Linked DNA regions of Homo sapiens: region 2 is linked to region 1. The links come from fine-mapping of genetic effects on gene expression. A gene starts in region 1. The other region holds a variant in brackets. All regions are shown on one strand. Distances are from middle to middle. Region 1 holds the start of SETDB2 (SET domain bifurcated histone lysine methyltransferase 2). Region 2 has its middle 16 kb from the start of RCBTB1.

The links.
Region 2: its variant is fine-mapped to the expression of SETDB2 in B cells (Fairfax 2012, PIP 0.95).

The regions. Positions count from the first base shown.
Region 1 is chr13:49,442,900-49,445,918 of GRCh38, reverse strand. SETDB2 (SET domain bifurcated histone lysine methyltransferase 2) reads right to left here and starts at 1,645. Exons shown (of 14, transcript NM_001160308.3): 1 at 1,062-1,645. CAB39L (calcium binding protein 39 like) reads left to right here and starts at 1,855. Exons shown (of 11, transcript NM_001079670.3): 1 at 1,855-1,933. It overlaps SETDB2-PHF11 (SETDB2-PHF11 readthrough), which reads right to left and starts at 1,645. Exons shown (of 21, transcript NR_135324.2): 1 at 1,062-1,645. RefSeq lists enhancers at 492-1,265, 1,948-2,027, 1,266-2,038, 2,408-2,477 and silencers at 1,738-1,787, 1,459-1,939.
Region 2 is chr13:49,600,372-49,603,130 of GRCh38, reverse strand. No RefSeq gene overlaps it. Among named protein-coding and RNA genes, the nearest start is that of RCBTB1, 16 kb to the right of the region's middle. The variant AT/T (reference allele first, on the strand shown) is at 1,474.

The DNA of each region.
Region 1 (3,019 bases):
GTCACCAGTGCAGTGAGAAGGGTGCAGTGGCGTGATCTCGGCTCACTGCAGCCTCTGCCTCCCGGGTTCAAGCGATTCTCCTGCCTCAGCCTCCCGAGAAGCTGGGATTACAGGGGCCCGCCACCACACGCCCGGCTAATTTTTGTGTTTTTAGTGGAGACGGGGTTTCACCACGTTGGCCAGGCTGGTCTTGAACTCCTGACCTCAGGTGATCCGCCCGCCTCAGCCTCCCAAAGTGTGGGGATTACAGGTGTGAGCCACCGCGCCCGGCCCATAGCTTTGTTTTTAAGCAGCTCTCACCAGCGTTCACACCTGAAAATTTGAAAACTGAACGTGCACAAGTAAAACATGTTTCCTGGAGAAAATCTGCAAAATACAATAAAGCATAAAGGAGAAAATTTAAACACCATCCCATCATCCAGAGACAACTGGTGTTAATATTTCAGAGAGTAAATGGGCTTAAAAAACTTTTTTCCCCTTCTCACTTTTTCATTTTGGTAGAAAAATAATTAAGCCAGTCTGCTTTGCTTCAATGTATGGTTCCTTTTCGTTTCTAAAACAGGCTTTAAAAACACGTTTACCATTTCCTCTCGGCTCCTTACGTTTTAATTGTAACGACAGAACCACGGGTTAAGTCACGCTTAAGAACCACGGGTTAGTCACGCTTCTAACTACTTCACGTGTTCTTATTTAATCCCCCTAACAGTCATGTGGGTTAAATTAGCAGCTCGTTTGCTGATGAGGAAGCTAAGGAATGCCATACCGTAAGTGGCAGACACGAAATAAGGAACCAGGCAGCATGGTTTCAGAGCCTATGCTTTGGTTACTCCATTTGACCTCTTCAAATTTACTCCTCTCCTTGGCCTCATGTGTTAGTATTTACAGAGCTCACTGCAGGTTTCCACATGCCAAAGAGCACAGTTAATTACATATCTTTCCTTACTTAATTACTTATTGGGCTGTGGCTGATAGCGAGTCAGAAGTGTTACTATCTAATCTGAACTCCATGATCTTGGATGAATGACTGAACTTGCTGTATTTAAGGGCTCGTGTAATCTTACCTGTGAAATGGGCTAGTGGTTTAACCTTCAAGTTCTGCTTCTGGGTTTTATACTGCTGTCCATTTCCTGCCGCCCCTTTGACAACCTCAGGTTCCCAGCAGCTTAGGAATCACCTCTCATTAAGGCTGCACCCTGAGACAGACAGGCTGAAATGGAGGTTGGAAACTCAGTGCGCCCGCGGCCCCTTCTGCAGCCAGGACTGCACTTGGGTGCCAGGAGAAGGGAGGCTGCAAGGGCTGGGGTCCAGCCCCTGCTCGGGCGGCCGAGGGCTCCGCGGCGTTTTCAGCTCCTCCAACCTCCCGGCTAGAGGAACTGTCGGGGGCCAGCCACGGCGGTGCCTTGGTTTCACCTGGCTCCGCTGCGTTTTCTACGCCGCCCGCCTGACCTGAGGAGTGAGCTCCGCCAGCTCCGTTGGCAAGGCTGGGTTCCTCCGCGGGTGGGGCTCTCCTCCGACGCCAAGCCGCCCAAACCTCCCGAGCGCAGGTGCCCTCTGGCCGGGAAGTACTTCACCATTTACTAGCCTTCATCTCAACCACAACAGTCCCGCCCTGCCTCTACCGGGGATGAGGGAAGGCGTAACCTCCGCCGGGGACCAGGCCGACCTACCTAAACCGATCACTACATGGGAGGAGTCGGACGCCGGCCGTCCCACCACCCAGCCAGGAGCCCATTGATTGGTCGCACTCCCCACTGGTTCACGCCTCAGAGACTCGGCGCACTTACCGCTGGCACCGCAGTGGCGCCCGAGCGCGCCGCCTCCCGATTGACTGCTAGCGCTCTCGGCTTGTCTCGCGCACTGTAGCTGAGCCAATGGAGTTACTCGTAGTCGAGAGGCCGGCATCACTGGAGTGGTGGCGCAGCTGTTTCCTCCGGTAGGTGTGAGGCTGCCATCTTGTGTGTGGCTGGGACTGGGCTTCTTGGGGGTTGAAAACATACATAGCGCCTGGCCGTAGTGGAGGGGTCCGGAGAGAACAATGGGGTAAAGGAGAGGCCTAAGGGAGGAGACCCAGCGCCTTCCTACTTGCGGAAAGGATGGGTTTCCTGGGCCTGAGTCTCATCCCTGGCTAGAGAGAGCGAGGAATGGTGGTGGTGGTGGTGGTGATGGTTGTGGTGGTGGTAATAGTAGGGATCCCAGGTTTTGGTTTGTTGATCATTGTGGGGGCTGGGCGGGGCCTTTGATGCCTTAACATTGGTTCCTGGGAGCTCTTTTAGTAATTTTTGTCTCGCAAAGATTCTGACCATCAACCCCCTTTGACAAAGGAGGCTAGCTGATGAACTGCCTGATTGAGAAAGGAGCAAAGCTAGTAGTGGAAGGGGAGTGCCTCTCTACTATCCTCAGGTTCAGAAGAGACCTCCTCTTCCGTCCTTTTCGAGGGAGCGGCTGCTAAACAGTTTGCTCTTCGCGGGGGTTACTTTACTAAGGCCATCCTTTGGTAATAGTGGGCGTCAAGTTCTGCGTTTGGGCAAAATTGTACATTAGCGGGCAGCCAAGCATTCCTGCAGCTGTCTTTTTTTTTTCTTTATTTTAAGCTAGAAAGTGGTGGTCTTGCAGAAACGGGGCGTGAAGGAAGAATTTTGTCAAATCTTGATTTCCCCGATAACGATATGTTGAAGATTATAAATCTCTGGGTCTGCCATGACATGCTTGGTCACTTCATGGAGCAGGAGGAGGCTTTGTTAGGGAAAGCACCTTAATTTCTGAGCTCTTTTTGGGGTAGGAGGAAGAAGACAGGACTTAACCTTGTTTCCCTCCTCCTTTTTTTTTTTTTTTTTTAGCATTGTTGTGGATGGCATTGCATTGTCTTTCATTTGAGGGGAAAATGTATTGGATCTGAAGACCAAGCTGATGAAAGGCTAATATTTTGTGGTAGATTTTAGCAGTTTGACTTGCATGAAAAGAAAGCCGATGTATTATTGCCTTCAGCTTAGATTTCAGTTATTCAAGATTAACTGATGAA
Region 2 (2,759 bases), 160 kb before region 1:
TGATCTCAGCTCACTGCAAGCTCCGCCTCCCGGGTTCACGCCATTCTCCTGTCTCAGCCTCCTGAGTAGCTGGGTCTACAGGTGCACGTCGCCATGCCCGGCTAATTTTTTTTTTTTATTTTCAGTAGAAACGGGGTTTCACCATGTTGGCCAGGATGGTCATGATCTCCTGACCTTGTGATCCACCCACATCGGCCTCCCAAAGTGCTGGGATTACAGGCGTGAGTGACCGCGCCCGGCCTGGGTTTTTGCATTTCTGATGAACAATGGGTCCACCTGGACTCATCAACCAGTCCTGTGGGCCCCACCCAGAAACCAATTCAGCTCAGGACAGCTTTGACTCCCTATGATTTCATCTCTGATCCAACCAATCAGCACTCCCGACTCACTGGCCCTGTACCCACCAAACTGTCTTTGAAAAACCCTAGTCTCTAAATCTTTGAAGAGACTGATTTGAGTAATAATAAAACTCTGGTCTCCTGTCAGCCAGCTCTGTGTGAGTTAAACTCTGTATCATGACTCCCCTGTCTGGATAAATCAGCTCTATCTGGGCAGCAAGGAAAACGAACCCACTGGGCAGTTACAAGACTACAGAAATGTGCCACCACACCCAGCTACCCTTCTTTTTTGAAAATATCTTCTGTCTTGGCTCTAACACCTTTCTCTGTTTTAGTGCTTTATGCTTATGCCAGTCCCCAGTTTTCTCTAACGAAATTCTACCTCTCTTAAAGCTCAAATTTCATGTATTGAGTCAAAGCCTTCCAAGATATGTAAGGGTTATACCAATTGCAGCCTTTTACTATTTGCTGTCTTCTATCCCAGGTTTTATTTCCAGGTGAGTTTATACAGCTTGCGTCTGCCAAATCAGATTTTAAGCTCCTTCATGGGAGGGACTGTCCTGTTTTCTTTGTATTGCTCAGAGAAAAGAGTAAAGTTTTGTGCAAATAGCTGTTGATGACTGACTCATTCATTTAAAAGCCAAGTTTATGAGATTTCTGCAAACATTTTAATGTCTATCTTTCATGGAGTTTTATAAGAATAAAGTGCAATAGCTCTCATAAAGCTTCCTTCACAGATGAAAAATAACTTGTATTTGGGGGACAATGATGGCAGAGGTGGTAGTATTTTATAGCCAGTGGTTTGGGTTAGAGGAGTTTTACAAAAAATAAATTAGTAGGCCGGGTGCGGTGGCTCACACCTGTAATCCCAGCACTTTGGGAGTCCGAGGCGGGCAGTTCACGAGGTCAGGGGATCAAGACCATCCTGGCTAACATGGTGAACCCCCGTCTCTACTAAAAGTACAAAAAATTAGCCGGGCATGGTGGCGGGCACCTGTAGTCCCAGCTATCGGGAGGCTGAGACAGGAGAATGGTGTGAACCCGGGAGGCAGAGCTTGCAGTGAGCCGAGATTATGCCACTGCACTCCAGCCTGGGCGACAGAGCAAGACTCCGTCTCAAAAAAAAAAAAAAAAA[AT/T]CAGTGCCTTTTCTCATATTGAAATGAGGACTATTTTATATGTACTAACAACTAAACTTGTTTTGCTTTTCTGGGGGAAGGGGTCTTTCATCCTAACTATTCACTTTTTTTCTTTCTTTTTGCATATTTGCTTAACATAGTTACTTTAAAAATATTAAAATTTATAGCTGAGACCCAGTAAGGTGGCTCACATCTGTAGTCCTAGCACTTTGGGAGGCCAAGGCAGAAGGATTGCTTGAGGCCAGCAGTTCAAGACCAGCCTGGTGAACATAGTGAGACCCCGTCATCTCCACACACAAAAAAATAAAAAATTCGTGAAGCATTCCATATTTTTTTCTGAGATAAAAAAAAACTAAAAAGTTATAGCTGAAAAAGTTTAAATTGTATACCTTACATCATAAAGATCTTAGACTGTTTTAACTGTGAATCTTGCCTCTCACCTTTCACTTGATTGCTAGGTACTAGTCTAGTTCCACTCTGTGCTTATCCTCTAAAAATCAGTAATTTCTTTGCTCATCATTAAGCCTCACATACTGATCCTTTCTGCTGGGTTTATTTTTCCTCTTTCTAAACTACATCCTGGCCAGGCGTGGTGGCTCATGCCTATAATCCTAGCACTTTGGGAGGCCGAGGCGGGCAGATCACTTGAGGTCAGGAGTTCAAGACCAGCCTGGCCAACATGGTGAAACCCCGTCCCTACTAAAAATACGAAAAAATTAGCCAGGCACGGTGGTGCATACATAGTCGCAGCTACTCTGGAGGCTGAGGCAGAAGAATTGCTTGAACCCAGGAGGCGGAGGTTGCAGTAAGCCAAGACTGCACCACTGCACTTCAGCCTGGGTGACAGAGCAAGACTCTGTCTCAAAATAAATAAATAAACTACATCTTTCAGGACTTCTTTCAGCAAGGGTCTGTGAGTGGGAAATTCTCTTAGTCTTGGTTTGATAATGTCTTTATTTTATCCTCACTTTTGAATACCAGTTTAACTAGACAGGGAATTCTAAACCGACAGAAATTTTCCCTTTCATTTTGAAGATACTGCATTATCCTCTGTGCATTATCTACTGTTTGAAATAAGAAACCAGCTTTCGGTCTCTTGTTGTTTCTTTATAGATGACGTGACTTTCGGGGCTATCCTGAACATCCGTAGCACCCAGTGCAAAATTACAAATGGGGGATACCATATGTCTAAAAATTTTTAAGTCAGAAATCAAGCGAATAACTTGTTAAATAAAATATGTTCTATCCTCCTTTTTTTTTTTTTTTAAGACACAGTCTCATTCTG